Linked DNA regions of Homo sapiens. The protein of the gene in region 1 interacts with the protein of each later gene in a pairwise test. Each region holds a gene or a part of one and is shown on either strand. Other genes may lie near its edges.

Region 1 (5,069 bases):
CAAAGGACTATAAATCATTCCACTATAAAGACACATGCACATGTATGTTTACTGCAGCACTGTTCACGATAGCAAAGACTCAGAACCAACCCAAATGCCCATCATCAATGATAGACTGGATAAAGAAAATGTGGCACGTATGCACCATGGAATACTATGCAGCCCTAAAAATGGTTGAGTTCCTGTCCTTTGCAGGGACATGGATGAAGCTGGAAGCCATCATTCTCAGCAAACTAACACAAGAACAGAAAGCCAAACACCGCATGTTCTCACTCATAAGTGGGAGTTGAACAATGAGAACACATGGACACAGGGAGGGGAACATCACACACCAGAGCCTGTCAGAGGGTGGGGGGCTAGGGGAGGGACAGCATTAGGAGAAATACCTAATGTAGATGACAGGTTGATGGGTGCAGCAAACTGCCATGGCACATGTATACATATGTAACAAACCTGTACATTCCACACATGTACCCCAGAACTTAAAGTATAATTTTAAAAAATTTAAAAAGAGTCGTAACTGCATCTTGGCTAAAAACAAATGTAAATAGCCATAACTGCATCTTGACTTTATTGGCCCTAAAAGAAGAAGAGGAGTATTAGGTTAGAAGTTGTTCAGCTGCTTCACCTTGCATTGAACTGTTCTGAGAGAATTCACTCAAAGTTTAAATAACTTGCACAGAGATCTCTGAACTCAAAGTTCATGCTCTATTTTGGTGAGTGGTGGTGCCCTTTCCTTCTGTGGAGATTAGAATAAGCAATGAGTCACTCTGGCTGAAAGGCAACTTCTTCCCTCCCTCCTACCCTTACTCCCAAATAAAAGAACGCCCTTTACCCTTTGCTATTTTTTTGCTAATGGGGATGATTTAAAACTCCTACATAGGTGAAGCTCAACATTTACCTAATAATTTCTGTGAAATTCAGAAGTACCATTTCATTCTAAGATAAAGGATTCTAACTGAAGTAAACATTTCCATGTTGAGTTCTTTGCTCACATGAGCCATCTAGGTCTTTTAACAGCAATTAAAAGGCTCTGTGGACATGGAATAACCCTTGAAAATATGGGGATACAGAAGAACACAGATCTGTTTTTCAGTTAAAAAGATACCAACCAGTATATTAAACAGTTTATTTCAGTAACATTGTAAGGCAACAATTAATCCTCAGTAAGTCAGCAAACCAGTGACAAGAAATTGACAAACACTCCTTCTACAGCTTCCTGAGACAGCAGGCTGGCTTGTGGCCCCCTGGGTGGTAACATCTTAAGGAATCCTATCATGTTTGTTTATATATGCTAAACTGTAAAAACAAACACTTCATGCGACAATCATTCTTAGGTCAAACACAAGAACGAACTATTTTGAAATCAATTCCTCACACTTTTTCCCTGAATATGCAGTACTGTACTACTAACATCTAATTCTGTAGAAAATAATGCATTTGTTAGTGACTTTGTTAGAGCTTGAAAAGACCCTTTTAGAAATTATTTAAATGATCACTCTTTAAAAATTTTTTTTAATCTCAGAATCTACTAATGTGACAGACAAACGGTATGCTTAACAGAGTCATAAATACTGTGTATAATTGCTTGACCATTTCTGGCATTTAAATGACCTCCCAGAATATTACACAAGCCCTGAGACTAGTGAGCATCTTACTACTGACCTTGTACAATACCAAAGCTTCATAATGCTAAAGAAAACCAAAACAAAAGACAATGGTTTACACAGGGAAATAACCCTAAGGCAATATGAAAACAGTCATAATTTATTACTGATAAAGAGTAAAGGCATCCTTCCCATAGAGGGGGGGAATTCACAGGGAACACTAATTATATCAGATGAACCACGGGGATAGAAAATAGGCCCATTTTTAAAATTCATTGAGAAATTATTACTTTTTCTCCACAACTGTGATTCTATACAAAATATAAACCCTGCAAACCTTATGTGCTACCTGACAGATAAAAGTAGCAGGAGCCAGACTCTTGAAGCACTTGAGACTGATTTCTACAAAGTCCAGGAAGAGCAATGATTCCAGTGTGCAGTGCTGATGCATGTGTGAGCCTAACATGTTATTCAGCTCTGGTTGCAGCCCCATCTACATGGGCCCAGTTAGTTTTTAGGGAGTCACAGATTAGGCAGGCAACGAGGGGCATGATTTAAAAAGCACATCATACACATGAGACAAGCAGCTTCAAGGACGTTTTCTCCGGCAATGCATACTTACTGTGCTCTTTCTATTCAGACAGATCCACAGACCACCTTTCAAGAGCATTCCTCTCTCATTTCCTCCATCACCCAAGATAAATCTAGCCACCCTTTTTTGTTAACTGTGCCTTTTCTTTCAACTTTTTGTCCTTGTTAAAACTCAAAATTTGTCCAACGTTTCACATTTCCTAATGATAAAAAGAAAGCTTGCACAGTTTACCATTGATCTCACCAATGCCCTCACTGCTGGAACCAAAAAGCCATGAGAGGTACTGCTGTGATACACCTTACAAGCTACATAGCCATCTTCAAAATGAAAACCACCTTTTAAGTCCTCATGCTGCCATTACGCAGGATCTGAACCACCTACACGTACAGTGGTCTCATTCCAGTATAAGCCACAACCTCAAGTCTCAGGAAAGCCAGTCTGCTGGATAGTAAGTTACTGAGAAAAACTAATCTATTCAACTGGCTGGAAAACAAAAAGATAGGCCCAGTGCATCAGTAAGATTATACCATGAAGGACTAACCTTGTATAACACAAGACTCCTATGAAACAAAGAAAAGAGAATAAATATTTATAAAATTCCCACCACTCCCAGCCTTCCTTCTACCCCAGAATAGCCCAGATGGCAGCTCAGTGCTCTGAGGAAGGAAGTTAAGGTCATGTACTGGCACAAACAATATTCTGAACCAAAAGAACCTACGAAAACCAGAGGGGTATGTGGCCAAATATTCCCCTTTTCAACTTGGTAAGATGGAGAGGGGTAACAGACATGTTTCAGAGGAAAACAGGCATAGAAAACCACCTCAGGAAAGCAGCACAGCAGTGCATCTGTGTGTCCACTTGTCAGGACAGTGAGTCACCAGCTCAGCACAGGGTCCAGGCCTCAGCACAGAGAGACAAAGCACATTTGAGAGGCTGCCTGAAGAAACAGCTTGACACAGGCTACAGCCTCAAGAGTGCAATGCTTCTCTCCCAGCCCTATGGCAATCACTTTCCAGTGACCTACACAGAGTTATATTCTCAAGGGGAATCATTACCTCAGTGAATGATATTTTACCCACCATCCACTAATACAACAAATGGTTTTGGGGCTTAAATTGGAAACAACTTTTGTCTCATTAACAATGCTCTGACAGTGTACATCTTTCTTGATCCTAAAGGGGCAGCTATTGAAGTGGATTGTTGGCTTTGTCCTTAAGGTCATATAAAATGACGTGTGTGTAGTGGCAGTACCCACATGTGCTGAAGTGCCAAAAGACTGGCATTTTCAAGTGTCAACAGGCCATGCATCACTGCGCCACAGCTAAACCCTTATAGTGCTTGGCCCTGAAAAGCGTTAACCCAGAAAGCTCTTTGAACATATGATCATTAAAATTCATTGACTTACGTTACAAACATCCACGTAACATAGGGAGAAACCATGTCACATGGAGTATCCACTGGGCATGTACTTAGAGCTCATCCACAAGATTAAAATACAAAGAGATCGTAGGTGCACACCCAGGCAGAGGGAAATGTCCAATCTGGGAACTTTTCCTTCAGAGCATCCAGTTGAGGGGATCTCTTGTCTTCCCCAGACAGATAGTGGGCAGCAATGGCCACGGTGACCATTCCTTCAGGATGTTCTTCTGAAACCTGCCAGAGAAAATCAATTAGTTCTCCAGTTCTCAGAAGCCAGAATACTGAACCCAAGGTTCTTGCTAAATACCACCTGGGAACCTAATCAATGAAACAAACAATGCTGGGAAATTGGCACCTGCACTTCTATCCAGAACTGCCATGCAGAGGCCTGGAGTCCATGGGAGTAAAAGACAAAGTAGTCTCCTCCTTTACTTGTGACTGGGGTGCCATTGCCAAGAGACCACTGAGAAAGTGTTGACCCTTTGTGGGCTCGAACATAGAAGGACATATGGCTTGGTCCTGTAAGGTAAAAGGAAGAAAGAACAGTTAATCTTTTTAAAAGGATCAAAAAAATAACCCACAATCCAAACCAGACTTCATAAAGGTTCATGCCTGCATGACTTTAAATATACTTACTATAAACCTAATGGAGGTTTACCAGTTTGGACACTTAGTGTGAATCAACAAGGTTAAATAATGAGGTACAGGAGAAAAGGCACAGACTGTAAATGAGAAAGCCTGTGTTAAGTTGGTCCTATCACTTAACTGCTGCATGACATCAGGAATTTAATCTATGTCACAATTTCTTCATTGAGGGGATTATATTAGAAAAAGCATATGAAAGTGTTGGCAAAACTGCGAAGTGCTGTAACAGTACTGAATAGGACTGCCATTATGAATGGAGTTGTAATTTTCAGAGTTGATCATGTAACACCTTAAAATATGTTTTACTAGTTTTTCCCTTCAAGCTGGAAAATATTAGCTCAGTTCTGAAAATTTAGTCATCACTGGGAACTTCCAAGGAAACTGATGACAGTGGAAGTCAAACTAAAACTAAAATAGATAAAACTAAACAAAAACACACCCTCAGCCTAACTTAAAGACAGAGAATACCCACATTTGAAATAACCGTAAATTTTTAAATCTCAGGGAGCAATCTCACACACTTGTGCCCACCCTGCTTCTGCTGCAAGGCTTTGTGGCAAATGCAGACCAAGTCAGTCCACCCTAAATCTGAAAATACTACTATAGTGTCCAGTCAAAGAAAGGTTTACAGGGCAGGGACTTAAAAGTATATTATTGAAGTAACAGTCTTCAAAACCAAAGCTTCTCAGGGAAAAATAAAAAAGAAGGAAGAGGAATCCTTTGGCATTTGGGTGGTGAAGATGAAAAGAAGCAAAAGAAAATTCAGGGTCCTGCAAGAAAAATCCAGTCAAAAAAGTTGAAAGAGA
Region 2 (4,523 bases), on another chromosome or scaffold:
ACATGGATAACAAAAAATGTCCATTTGTACAGTGCATACATCTCTCCTATTTTCACAGAATCTGAGAAAGTACAATTATGGGCTTAGAGACCATCTACAGTATCTCCTTTACTGCAGAGACCAGGAACCCCAGTACAGGGAGAGAAAGTGACTTGTCTGATGCCACAGAGGAAGCTGGAGGCAGGACCCCTCCTGTGTGAAAGGTAGGCACTGTAATAGTCACAGATAGAGAAGCAACATATTCCAGCCATGGTTCCTGCGTTCACGTGACCATCAACAAGGTCAGAGTGGATTGGTAGCAAGGTCAGGGTTGGACAATAGATGTCTGGACTCCTGGTTTCCACTAGATCTCCCTGGTACTAATATTTGTCCTGGGAGAACCACAGGCAGAGCACCGAATCCCAAAAGCAAGCACAGAAGCCATAACTCAGAAAGCCTCTCAAGCTTTCTGAATTCTTCATTCTGATCATTTTGAGCCACACTGAACTAAGGTAGAAGAAGCAGGGTTAAAATACAGCCTAAACATCCAGGACCCACTCTCGTCAGGACACACTCTCATCTAAACTTGGTCGCCCCACCCTCTTTCCAAGCATCCCAGCAGTGCCTCAGCCATCATTATTGCCTTTGCCTAAACTACACGTTCTGAGCTTCTCCATAGTTCCATGTTCTACCCACTCTTTAAAGTCAAGCTTAAATGGCTCCTTCTTTTCTAGAGAGCTCCCTGACTCAGTAGCTGGGGCTTCTCTCTCTTCCAGACATCCTGAACACTATGTCCTAATCCTTCATGGTGTTTACTACTTTCTATCTTGTAATAGATTGGATCATTTTGGTATGATAACCCTCTCTGCACACACACAATAGTGGATTGATAAATTTAGAGATCCTAAAACTAAAGAGATCATTCGCTTACCCAATTATTATTCGAAGTAAAGAAACTGATGTAAATCATTAAAATATACATTTAAAAGTACAATAAACCCTTTGACCCAACAGTCCCACTTCTAGGAATTGACTCTAAAGATTAATGACAACATTATAAACATGCAGTCATGCAAATTACAGCACTATTTATAACTATAAAATACTGAAAACTACCTAAACATAGGAGATGGAATAAAATATGGCGCACACACTATTGTGTACACATACAAAATTGTGTGTGGGTGTGTGTGTGTCTATATATATATATATATATATATATATATATATATATATATACACCACCAGGTGGAAAATAATAAGGAAAGATTCTGTGAACTAGTAGAGTAATTTTCAGGACATATTATTGAGAAAAAAAGGAGAACGCAAAAAAAAGAATACATAGTGTGCTGCCTTTCATATAATAGAAAAGGGAAAAATAAGAAAACACATAAGCGATTTATTTTGAGGAAAAAACACTAAGACACAGGAAAGACAAACCAGAAGGCATTAAAATTGGTTACCTATGAGTGGTAGGGGTGGGAGAGGGGGAGGGTTAGAAAGACTGGAGGGATTGACACTTTCTGAGTACACCTTTTGGAATAATTTTGACTTTTAGGTGGTAATGTCCTATATATTAAAAAAATAAATTATATTAGTGTTATGGGCTGAATGGAGTCCCCCCACCTTAGTCAAATTAGTATGTTGAAGTCCTAACCTAATATGACTGTGTTTGGAGACAGTATCTTCAGGGAGGTAATTAAGGTTAAATGAGGTCATAAGAGTGGGGGCTCTAATCTGAAAAACTGTTTTCCTTATAAAAAGAGGAAGGGACATCAGGGCTCTCTTCCTCTGTGCATGCACACTGAGTAAAGGCCATGTGAGGACGCACTGAGAAGGTGGCTGTCTGCAAGCCAGGAAGAGAGGCCTCACCAGAAACCAACCCTCAACAGTACCTTGACCATGGACGTTCAGCCTCCAGAGTCGTGAGAAAATAAATATGTGTTGTTTAAGCTACCCAATCTGTAGTATTTTGTTCTGGCATCTTGAACAGACTAAGATAATTAGCCAGAATGGAGAAAAAAAACTAAAACTAAATGCCAAAAAAAAAAAACCCCACAAATGGATGCAAATGAATTTCAAATGTATCATGCATTACATAATCACACTAAAGGTGGAAAAAAGAACTAATGGAAGTACGGTAATTTCTAGATACAGTATTTGGCTATATTCATTAAGTCTAAGGGAAAAAGAACTGAAAAGTCTTGAATATTTCTTGGTAGCTTTGTTTTTTATAATGGCATGGGTAAGTATTATAGAATTATACAAGTAAGTAAATTTTTTAATCTATTTGTAAAATAGGTGTTTCACCTATTTGTATAATAGGGGGAGACAAATTTCTTACTTTGAAAGAAGAATACATGTATGGAATGGGGCAAGCAGGGAAAAATCCCGTGGAGTTGGGCTGGAAGTGGAGGTCTCAGTACAAACTTGTGTGTGTGTATTAGCTCTGTCATCAAGATGGCAGGGAAACAAGGTGACCCCAATGGCAAAGAGCACATTGAGTCCCCATAGTTTTTTGTTTTTTTTGTTTTTTTTGTTTTTTTGAGACAGAGTCTTGCTCTGTAGCCCAGACTGGAGTGCAGTGGCATGATCTTGGCTCACTGCAAGCTCCTCCTCCTGGGTTCATGCCATTCTCCTGCCTCAGCCTCCTGAGTAGCTGGGACTACAGGCACCCACCGCCACGCCTGGCTCATTTTTTTGTATTTTTAGTAGAGACGGGATTTCACTGTGTTAGCCAGGATGGTCTCAATCTCCTGACCTCATGATCCGCCTGCCTCGGCCTCCCAAACTGCTGGGATTACAGGCGTGAACCACCGTGCCCGGCCCCATAGTTTGGTTTCTAAACACCATTCCCTACTAACAAGAACCTGGGCTCCTTGGGGAAATGAATTCAGGGCTGAGGCAGGGAAAGTACAAGATGAACGTAGGACATATTTTTGTATCGAAAAGTAAAACATTACTCAAAAAACAATGAAGGTATGTTAAAATGACACAGCAACAAGTTAATGGGCTTTGACTTGTCAAATCTAGGACAATTTGAGCATCAAAATAATTAAGGACGGGAGGCCAGGAGTTCAAGGCCAGCCTGGGCAACACAGGCAGACCCGGTCTCTATAAAAAGTTAAGCTGGGTGTGGTGGCATGCCTGTGTAGTCTCAGCTACTCAAGAAGCTGAGGCAAGAGGGTCACTTGAACCCAAGAGTTGGAGGCTACAGTGAGCCATGATCACACCTCTACACTCCAGCCTCAGTCACAGAAAGAGGCCCTGTCTCCAAAAAAAAATTAAACAAGTAAATAGAGTGATGAACTACAAAAATAGGACTCCATGATTCTACACTGATAATATCAGATAAATAAATGTTTTTTAAGTTTTTTGTGAACATAATCACATGTACATAAAATTATTATATACCTATTTGGTATAAATATTTATAAATATATACATATAAAGAGAGTAAGAAAGGAATGGCTATTGCTTTTTTGTTTTTTAGAGTATTTTTTTTGAGACAGAGTCTTACTTTGTCACCCAGGCTGGAGTGCAGTGGCTTACTGCAACCTCCGCCTCCTAGGTTCAAGGGATTCTATTGCCTCAGCCTCCTGAGTAGCTGGGATTACGGTGTGCACCACCATGCCCAGCTAATTTTTTTGTACTTTTAGCAGAGACAGGGTTTTGCCATGTTGGCCAGGCTGGTCTCAAACTCCTGGTCTCAAGTGATCCGCCTGCCTTGGAGGAATGGCTATTCCTTACAGCAAAGTGCCAACTGATGATTTGGATGAATTGGTGAACTAGAAAAACCAGTATTTTGTAAACATTATAGTAAAGATTGGGTCAGTCAAGAATCATCAATGGATAACAAATCTAGGCAGAAAGGAAATTTAAGGAGGAGTAGGAGATTTATATGACTTTACAACATCTCCCACATGTTATATATTAGTTACAAGGTGAAGAAGTAATTACTACACAAGAGACCCAGACAACACCTTGACCCAGTGATCAAAATGGACATCACCACTGAGAGGCGACGGGCATTAAATACCTCCAGACATGAAACTCAGAAGGCTACGGTATCATGAAGAAACATCAGACAAACCAAATTTAGGAATACCCTATAGATAATTGTCACAAATGTCAATGTCATGAAAGATAAAGGCTGAGAACTTTTCCAGATTAAAAGAGGCTAGAGAGGTGTGATGCATAAATGTCTTACACAGTCATGGACTGGGCTTTGCATTAGAGAAAAAAAGACTTCCATGGAAGACATTATCGGAATAATTGACACAATCAGAGTAGGCACGGCAAATTAGACTAAAGTATTATATCCATGTTAAATTTCCTGAATTTGATAGCTCCATTGACATTACATAAAAAAAAATCCTGTTCTTAGGGAAAATGCTCTAAAGTATCAAGGGGTAAGGGAACGATACAATCAATCTACTGTCAACTGGCTCAAAACATTAGTAATAATAATAATAATGTATATTTGTTAGAAAGAGAGAGAATGGGCTGGGTGCGGTGGCTCATGCCTACAATCCCAGCACTTT
Region 3 (5,156 bases), on another chromosome or scaffold:
GCAAGCTACAGCTCTTTCTCTCTCTGAAGCACCTTGCATTTGCACATGCTACACATCCCATCCTTCCAATTCCTTTCTCTGCATTTCCCCATTTATCCAAACCTGTCATTCAAAGCCTAGCTCAAGACCCATCTCCATAAAATCCTCCACAACTCCAACCCACTGTAATTTCTCCCTCCTTTAGATTTGTACTAGTTTCATATACAATTTCAAGATTTACTGATTTTAAATGTTCACCAATTGTTTCATCTTACCTTTGTCTTTCTAATTTAGATTACTAATAACTTTTAGGCACTATTCTACACACACACACAGACATTAATAAGGACTTTTAATTAATTTATTAATTGCTTAAGCATGAACATTTAGAGAAAAACACACCTATAAATTATTATAACATGTAAATTCACAAATATGCAAACTAGAAAAGGAAGATAGGACTAAAGTTATTAATAAGGACAAAACCCTTCTTTTGCACAATTGTTTTGAATCTTTTTCCACTGTTTGCAAATCTGCCAAAGCTACCTTAGAGCCCTGTCTTGATTTTTATCTCCTCTTCTTGTTACTGCCTGTCCTCTAGTGGAAGACAACAATAAATGAATAAAAATTAGCCCAAAGAAGGAAAGAAGTGAAGGGTTCCTTTTTAGTAACTCATAATCACAAAATCAGTAACTTTTATAAAAGATGGAATAATTTTAATTGGAACACCAAAATATAATTTGAACACACACACAAAAATCTAGAAGACAATAGGGCTAAAAAAAAGGAGGAAGAAGTGGCACAGGGTACGGGGAGTGTCCGGGAAGGGGACCAGGTACAAGGCTGGGAATATAGCTCTGATGTACACAATTTAGGTTGTTTTTATTTTTCCCCTTAGGTTTTTTCTGGATAAATCTTGTTTACTAACTGCCAAGCTGCTTGAAGTTATAAGCAAATAAGTAGACAAAAAGAAAATAGGGAAACCAAATGAATACTATGTTTTACATTTAAGTCATTAGCTCCCTTGTTCCTTTGTGAATTTACCTTGTACAAAGCGAGTTCTTTCTGTTTGGCAGTATTAATAACATAGCAGTTTTAGCAATAAAGACATAAAGTCATATTTCCCCAAGTGGTATGCTTCTCATTATTCTAAATCATGTCATGGTTAACCTATCACACCAAATCACTACATGTAAAGTAATATGCTTTTTTAAATCCTGATTTTAAACATTTAATAACTTTACAATAACATAAGCATAGACTTCATAGATCTGCTATATGTAGTCTTTCCTAGTTGTGTTCAGAAATAGTTTTAAAATTTAAACCTTTCAACCTTTAAAATTGAAAATTACAAATTATGTTTTAATCATTTTTTTTCCTTTTCCCAGGAGTAACAGTGCAATTTGACATAAACAGCTCCTTGCCTATCTGGCTGCCCCAGCCAAGCTGGGTCCTACACAAGTTGCTATAAGAGCTTTCTACAACAAGATCTGAACTACTGAAAGATTCAGATCACTTGACTTTTTAGGTGAGTAACAGTCTATTAAGGCTAAAACTAAGTATTGGCTTGACTTTTTTCACTGATGCTCTTCAGTGAAAAGCACAATGGTTAAATAATGAGGAAAATTGCCCACTCAAATGTTTAGTGGTGCTTACTGATGTATATCATTACTGATTGTGATTCTGGCACATACTAGTCATATCTAACCTTGGCCAAATCATTTCACCTCTCTACGCCTCCATTTCTACCTTTGTAAAATGGAGAGGTGTCTTCCATGTCTACTTCACTGGGTTGCTGTGCAGATCAAAGGGAAAAAAGCATGTGAAAATTCTCAATAGAAAGGTGCAGTCAAAGAGTGTAGTTATTTTGCATGTGTTCACTAGTAAGATTAACATGTGGAAAGAAGATTTTTTGTGGAAGATAAGCAGCATTTTAAAGTCATTCAGAAATGAGGAAAAATACCTTTTCTTCTTTCAATTATCAAATTATAACATTTAAAACCAACTACACTCTTCCCTTGCAGCTGCTCTGTCTACCAAAAGTGAAACCTGAAAACTCCCTCCCACACCAACTCCTACCAACCTTCTACAGTGAAACCAGGACACCCCCACAGTGGCCCAAGTTCTCTATAACTTCTATAGGAACCTAGATGTTGAAGAGTCTGTTCTCTAACTCGTAGTGTCTCTTACAGCCCACACATCTTGAAGATAAATACAGACATACATCACAGACGCACCACTGTAACTGTAGGCATATTATATTTTTGAAGTGCCTAATCATCGAAAGTGACAGAAAGCAATAAACTGTCCTAATCTATGCCACTGGCAATGTGGACCTAAATGAGTTAGCGTTCTTATCTTAAAAAAAAAAATTAAGAGAGAAGAGGCTGGGTGCAGTGGCTCATGCCTGTAATCCCAATGCTTTGGGAGTCTGAGGTGGGAGAATTGCTTGAAGACAGGAGCTCAAGACCAGCATGGACAATATAGCAAGACTCTATCTCTACCAAAAATTTTAAAAATTAGCCAAGCATAGTGGCGCATATCTGTAGTCCTAGACACTCAGGAGGCTGAGTGGGAGGACTGCTTGAGACCTGGAGTTACAGGCTGCAGTGAGCTACGATTGCACCACTGCACTCCAGCCTGGGCAACAGAGCAAGACCCTGTCTCAAAAAAGGGGGTTGGGGAAGAGAATAAGATAAAGAGAACCTAACTGACTTTGATTGCTGCTAGTATGTATTTGATTTATCCTGCCTTGTTCAAAAAACAGGAGGAAATAAGGAAATGGACAGTAAGACAAATTATAGAGATCTGTATATTGTAGTAGGATACAAAGTACAACAAGCAAGACACCGGAAAAAAGGATAATAAAGTAAACTAGATATGGGAGTAACCCATATTTAGCAACCCCCTATATTTATTATTGCAATTGATTTGTATTGCCCCAGAAGAAAGACAAAAAATAAACTCAGGAAGAGCTGAGACCAGGTTTCTCACTGTTCTCCCAAAGAGAATTCAAACTTACCGGCCACTAAGAAGATAGTCAAAATCAACAGTAGCCCTAGGTTAGCAGTTCTCCAAGGGCAGAGCATTTCTGTTTTCTCTTTTTCTGCCCTTCACTCAGTACTTTTCCTCCACACAGGTACAGAAGGAACTGTGCGCATGGTGAGACCCTCTCTGGTCAACTTCTCAGTACAGGATCCTCTTACCCCATCAACAGTGGGGCACTCCCTTCCTTCTAGCCCCTTCCTTCACGTCTATGTGGTTTAGCCTGGTTAGTAACTTGGACGAACAGAAGCTTTTCTCTGGAACTTGACACAGCAATAGATTTCCTGTATGAAGCCCTGAAGCAAAGACGGAGGAAGCAGATTGATTGAATTATCTCTCAGCTCATTGGTTCTCCTCTCACTTCTGCTGTACACAGACAAACTTTACAGTAAGGCATTGAACGTGTCCAAGATAAACAGATTTGTCTAAACTTGCACCAAAAAGTAAAACAGAATATTGATCTACTTTGGCCCATCCTTGTAAATTTCCCAATTATGATGACTTTTAGAGGCTTTCTCCAGGTTGAAGAGCTTTACGGCCTTAGTATTTGAGTCTGGAATACAATATGTTTTCTTGAAAATTATTGTGTGAAATTCCTGTCTATAATGGGAGTCAACACACAACCCTGTAAACATCATATGTGTATTAGTTTCCTATTGCTACTGTAAGAAATTACCACAAACTCAGTGGCTTAACACAACACAACATTTATTATCTTACAGTTCTGGTGATCAGAAGTCTGAAATGGATCTTAGGGGACTAAAATCAAGGTGTTGGAAGGGCTGCACTCCATCTGGAGGCTCGGGCAGAATTTGCTCCCTGCCTTTTCCAGCGATTTGAGAATGCCTGCATTTCTTGGCTTGCAGCTACATCATTCGGACCTCTGGTCCACTGTCACATCTTCTCTGACTGTGACCCTTATGCCTCCCTTTTATAAAGACCTTGTGATTATTTTTGGTCCACCCAAATAATCCAACATGATCTAATTTCAAGATCTTAATTTAATCACATCTGCAAAGTCCTTTTTGCCACACAAGGTAACATTCACAGGTTTCGGTAATTCGGACATAGGTATCTACCTTGTTGGGGGTGAGGGCATTCTGTTTATCAGAACTCAGTACTTATTGCCATTCAGTTTCACCTTTGGAAAATTAGACTGATCATTTTAACCAAATTACAAATAATCACCCATCTCTTAGTTGCCACACATCTGGAATTCAGACTCCCCCTAACCAAAAAAAAAAAACAACAACAACAACAAAAAAACCTCTTCCTTACTGTTGCTAGTTACTATGTTACTATGCTTTTAAGTTATGTCTGAGAGAGGGAAAAATCTTCTATGTGCTGAGAATTTTCTGCCCCAAGGCAAAACTGTACAGGAAGGGGAAGAAAACATTGCAAACAGGAAAAAGATTAAACAGCATGCATTTTTTTTCTCAGTTAGCAGTTTCATCTTCCTTCTTGCCAAACATTATAAATATTTCCCCCCTTCCCCTTCTCAAGCTTTTTTTTCCAGTTAATTAATTTGATGAAGACAGTGAAACCAGATCCTTGAGGGCATGGAACACTTAAGGGTATGAGCTGTGACAATGGGAAGACCAAAACAAAAATGTCTTCTCTTCTGTCTAATGTTTCACCAGGTGTCGGAAAATTAGTGAGAATACATCATTTAAAATACAGATAATATTCTGGTTTTCCACTACATAGAAGTGAAAGTTGGCCGGGAGTAGTGGCTCATGTCTGTAATCTTAGGACACTGGGAGGCCGAGGCGGGCAGATTGCCTGAGCTCAGGAGTTCGAGACCAGCCTGGGCAACATGACAAAACTCCAAACTCCATCTCTACTTAAAAAAAAAAAAAAAAATTAGCCAGGTGTGATGGCACTCATCTGTAGTCCCAGCTACTTGGGAGGCTGAGGCATGAGAATCGCTTGAACCCAGGAGGCAGAGGTTGCAGTGAGCAGAGAGAAGTTAAAGTTAAAATTCACACTCGCTTAGGATACAGATAGACATAGGGTTAAGTCTCTGTTGTGCAATTACTAGTCCAGTGATACTGGGAAAGTTTCTTACTCAAGTCTGTATCTGTTTATATTATATTGACATTAGCTTTTTCTCATGTCATCAAAAATTCTTG
Region 4 (4,350 bases), on another chromosome or scaffold:
TGGGTCGCATGTGGCCTGTGGGCCGTGGGTTGGACAAGCTTGCCCTAAGTGAAAAAACACATCTAATCACCTCTGGACCCATCATTATACCCCACCAGGGAGCCACGCTGAGGACAGAATGGAGCTGCTCTCAGTCCCCCACAGCTCAGCATTTCCTGACCCAGTCTGAATACTCAGCCTGAAAGTGGGCATGGCTGGTGAGACCCTCTCTGGTCACCACTCCCAAAATGTCTTCCACCTCCAGATGTGTTACTGTAATAACAGACTCAGAATTTCACCCCCTAAGTCCAACATGGGTGCACTCTCTAACTTTTTGAGGCCTCTGAGACTTTACTTCCTCCTTCCACATCCTCGCAAGAGTCCTGCCCAATCTCTGGTTCTCTGGGAACGAGGACTGATTGTCCCTTTCCTGTAGCTTTCATTGATCAGTCTGCCAGGCACCTGACAATGATAACGCTCATGAACTTGTTGAATTGAATTTCTTATCCGTTGATTTCCTCCCCTAGGTGACAACTTTTAATTAATTACCATCGGCTTTCTGTACCTGAGGCTTCTGTATCCTTGGATTCAACCGAGGATTGAAAATAAAAAACAATAAAAACAACACAATAAAAATGCAAATATAGAAACAATACAGTGTAACAAGTATTACATAGCCTTTATATTGTATTTGATATTATAAGTCCTCTAGAGATGATTTAAAGAATACAGGAAGATATGCATAGATTATATCCAAATCTATACACTACACCATATCCATGTACACATACACTACACCAAAATCCACAACACCATTTTATGTTTTTGAGACAGTCTTACTCTGTCACCTCGCCTGGGGTCCAGTGGTGCGAACACGGCTCACCGCAGTCTTGAACTCCTGGGCTCAAGCAATCCTCCCACCTCAGCCTCCTAAGTAGCTGGGACCACAGGCGTTCACCACCATGTGTGCCTAATTTTTTTTAGTGAAGGGGCGGGGCGGGGGGGGCGGGTTTCACTATGTTGCCTAGGCTGGTCTCGAACTCCTGGCCTCAAGCAATTCTCCCGCCTTGGCCTCTCAAAGTGCTGAGATTACATGGGTGAGCCGCTGTGCCTGACCCACTATGCCATTTTATATCAGGGACTTGAGTAGTCTCGGATTTTGGTATCCGAGGAGGTCTTGGAACCAATCCCCTACAGATTCTGAGGGATGACTCTTTTCTTAAAGAGTAGCCCAAGAAGGAGGCACGTGAAGAGCAAAACTGTGTCCAGGAGAGCTTTTATTTGTACGGAACAGTTTTAAAAATACAGAATAAAATAGCTTTATCTCTACTATTATTCACAACATCTGGTCCAAATATTACATATTTTTAAAATACTTAAACGTTTAATGAAGCCATGTTAGAAAAACAATATGAAAATTCTTTTTAAAAACTCCATAAAAGAATTACACATCTCAAAAAACAACCCCACCCCAAATACCCTCGGTAATCAAAATAAAAATAAAAAACAAACAAAACCCCAGAAAGGTATATATAGCCAAAGTCAGTCACAAAAACTCAAGGAAAATATAGGCATCCCCACTGTTTTAAGAACAGTCAGAAATGTATTAAGGTGTCAAATGAAGATTGTTACTAACGAACAAAAAAGGAGAGTCATTTGAACTGTCAGTAAGATGGCAACGTGGGGAAGGGTGTCCTAAGTGCCTGGAAACACGCACAGCAATGCTAAGGACATGGGAGGGTAGAGTGATGCTGAAACACAGTCAACACCAACCAGAAAGGACGGGAATGTCTGTGAGGCTGCTGAAAAGAGACCCCCAACGCTAATGTGCCTTATGGGTCCATGGGCAGACGCTGAACGCTGGCAAAACCGGGTGGCCGTTCTTGCACTACTCGGGTTCTGACTGCAGGAGGGGCAGAGGGTGGTCGATGTCCTAGTCCCTGTGTCTAAAAAGTCATGAGGGGACAGAGTACAACAGGCAGCACGTTAAGTCCCTGGGCTCTTTTCCAAAGCCAAGAGGAGGCTCCCTGGAGAAGCGAGCTTTGCGAATGCTCAGGCCCGGAGCCGCACACTAACGCGGCGTGCAGCAGGTGTGGCTGGGTGTGCACAGCTGGCGTCCAGCGACAGCCATGCCGGGCCTATGCCTATAGCGAGTGTACACCCCATGCACGGCCATCCCCCAGGATGCTGCTGCTTCTCTGGCCAGATGGGTTCTGGAATGAGGCTTCTGCTACTGCTCCATATTCACCTTCAATCTGGCCTGGCCACTCCCATGGCATCCGTATTACTGAAGATGAGACTTGCCAACTTTAAGTTGCTAGTACCAATATTTCAGCAGGGATATGAATGAAAGAAATAACAACTTAGCTCATGGTCATAAAATATACGTATGGGTAAATAAAGTATACACACATACTAGAGATTCATCAATGGAGAAATTCTATCATCACATGACATTGTCATGAAAATTATATCATTCCCTCCCTGGAAAACTGTGACTATTATCCTGGGTAGAAATGTTATTTTGCTATATGGAAATACTGCAATATTCATGCATAAACCAAGTTGTCATCATGAAAGTCGGTATTCTACAGCATAAAGCAAAACCTCTGTGCGAATTTGTTACCATGAAAACGGGAAACCATCAGGACCCATGATGCTTCATTCTGGCTGGCATGGTTAAAGCCACTTCTCTTGCCTTGATCAATCCCAAGAAACTAAAAGTTAGCATTTGAAATCCTCTTGAGGATTCTGAAAGTAAATGTATCTGTGAATCTACATTTAACTTCCTAATGAGAATGAAAATTGCTTACAAAGACTAGAGTCACTTCCCATTATTCTGTGAAGCAGGGGTGGGGGCCCTCCATCCCCCACTGTGAATATGGCATCACCTCCTGTCCGTATTCACGCTGTCTACATTTCATGTTGGGATTGCCCACACAAATGCTTTCTTTCAGGGACCAGGCAGGTGACCTGGGAAGGTGGTGGGTAGGTGGTCTCTGTGGAAACTGGAGACTAACCGGCCTGCAAGGACATTCACATCCAAAATATTTTACAACACTCTACAGGCAAAACAAAGTACGGGGTGGTGGTTCAAAGCCCCAGCAACGCAGGCCAATGATGTGAATGGGAAGTGTCATGACACAGACCGCGAGTGGCCACCGTGTCCCCCAATATCTCCCCTTCAGGTGTGTGCTTAAACCCAAGAAGCAGATGAATACATTCTTTTTCTTTCAATTACAAACTTTCATTCTGTAGCATATTTTCCAGTAGGAGAACCACTTCCTAAAATGGTGTGTGTGTGTGTGTGTGTGTGTGTTACATGTTCAAGTTTATTAGTCATTAGGGGACTCCAATCACTCAAGGCTGTGCAGAAAGTACCAGATTCAGCAGGGGCATCTAGTCAGGCTGCCCTCTTTGCTCCCCACCTCCTATTCCCTTACCCCTCCTCGGACAGAATTATTGGGTTGGCCACAGTGGAATCAGAACAGGAAACTCTCACTCCAACAGGAGTTGAAAGGGTAGGGCTTCCTTCCCTGTGTGAAGGCCTACAGAGGGCACCCCACATGTTAGCGGGGTTGAATCCTCCTGATACAACCCGGCCCAAGGAGGGGCTTCAGAAGGGAGTGGGTTTCTGGATGACTAGAGCAGACACCTTGAGTGTTATGCAGCGGAAGACGCCCAGTCAAGCTGAAGAGAAGGTGCCCCTGGATCACCAATGGCTTTCAGGCTTTTATTTGGATATTTGGTCTTTCTGCTCACCTGGAGAGCTAGAAGATTGCAAATCTCTGGGATGTTTAGCAGTTTTCCCCATTTTTCAGAGCAGAGAAACTGGAGATGTTGAGCAAAATCCAAACAGAAGGAACTGAGAGCAACTCATTGCAGGAGGGCTGCCAGCCTCAAGAGTGTCCCAAGGCAAGAGGGATGGAAACCGCGAGCCAGTGTGCTTCTAAAGTATGCATCAAAGACACATTTAAAAAAACATACAAAATTAGATGTAATTTAGCATCTAAGTTCTTTACTTAATCTGCAGTAAGTTTTTGGCAAAACAATGCAGTGGCTCCGAGGTGTTCTTGCCAGAATAAACCTTGAAGCCCCAAACTTCCAAGAGTGAAGGGGGCTACGGTGACATGGCAATGCTGCAAAGACAGCGCCGCAGCACTGGAGAGCTGAGCCAGCCTGGGGCCGAGGGGGACAGGAATGCACCGTGTGGACACCAGGCTGCCAAGAACCATGCCCTGCCGCTGGAGACAGGAGACAGGCACCCACGCAGCTGACCAAAGCTCGACCAGGCCAACGGCCACCGAAGATGTGCCACCTCATGAAGCGAGGGCACTGCTTCCTATCTCAGGCCTTTTCCTTCACTGAAAA

Evidence for each region.
Region 2: the proteins of ERMP1 (region 1) and SLC18A1 interact in a two-hybrid assay, tested with the Homo sapiens proteins (one large-scale study listed by BioGRID).
Region 3: the proteins of ERMP1 (region 1) and CD200R1 interact in binary tests that used the Homo sapiens proteins (3 or more experiments, as listed by UniProt).
Region 4: the proteins of ERMP1 (region 1) and SLC23A2 interact in a two-hybrid assay, tested with the Homo sapiens proteins (one large-scale study listed by BioGRID).

The regions. Positions count from the first base shown.
Region 1 is NC_000009.12:5,783,457-5,788,525, forward strand, and holds the end of ERMP1 (endoplasmic reticulum metallopeptidase 1), read right to left. Parts: intron 4,138-5,069; coding exon 3,974-4,137; intron 3,853-3,973; coding exon 3,688-3,852; 3' UTR 1,116-3,687; downstream 1-1,115. UniProt on the Homo sapiens protein: Within the ovary, required for the organization of somatic cells and oocytes into discrete follicular structures.
Region 2 is NC_000008.11:20,165,114-20,169,636, forward strand, and holds part of SLC18A1 (chromaffin granule amine transporter), read right to left. Parts: intron 1-4,523.
Region 3 is NC_000003.12:112,971,790-112,976,945, forward strand, and holds the start of CD200R1 (cell surface glycoprotein CD200 receptor 1 isoform a precursor), read right to left. Parts: upstream 3,315-5,156; 5' UTR 3,069-3,314; coding exon 3,002-3,068; intron 1-3,001. UniProt on the Homo sapiens protein: Inhibitory receptor for the CD200/OX2 cell surface glycoprotein. Limits inflammation by inhibiting the expression of pro-inflammatory molecules including TNF-alpha, interferons, and inducible nitric oxide synthase (iNOS) in response to selected stimuli.
Region 4 is NC_000020.11:4,851,119-4,855,468, forward strand, and holds the end of SLC23A2 (solute carrier family 23 member 2), read right to left. Parts: 3' UTR 1,240-4,350; downstream 1-1,239. UniProt on the Homo sapiens protein: Sodium/ascorbate cotransporter. Mediates electrogenic uptake of vitamin C, with a stoichiometry of 2 Na(+) for each ascorbate.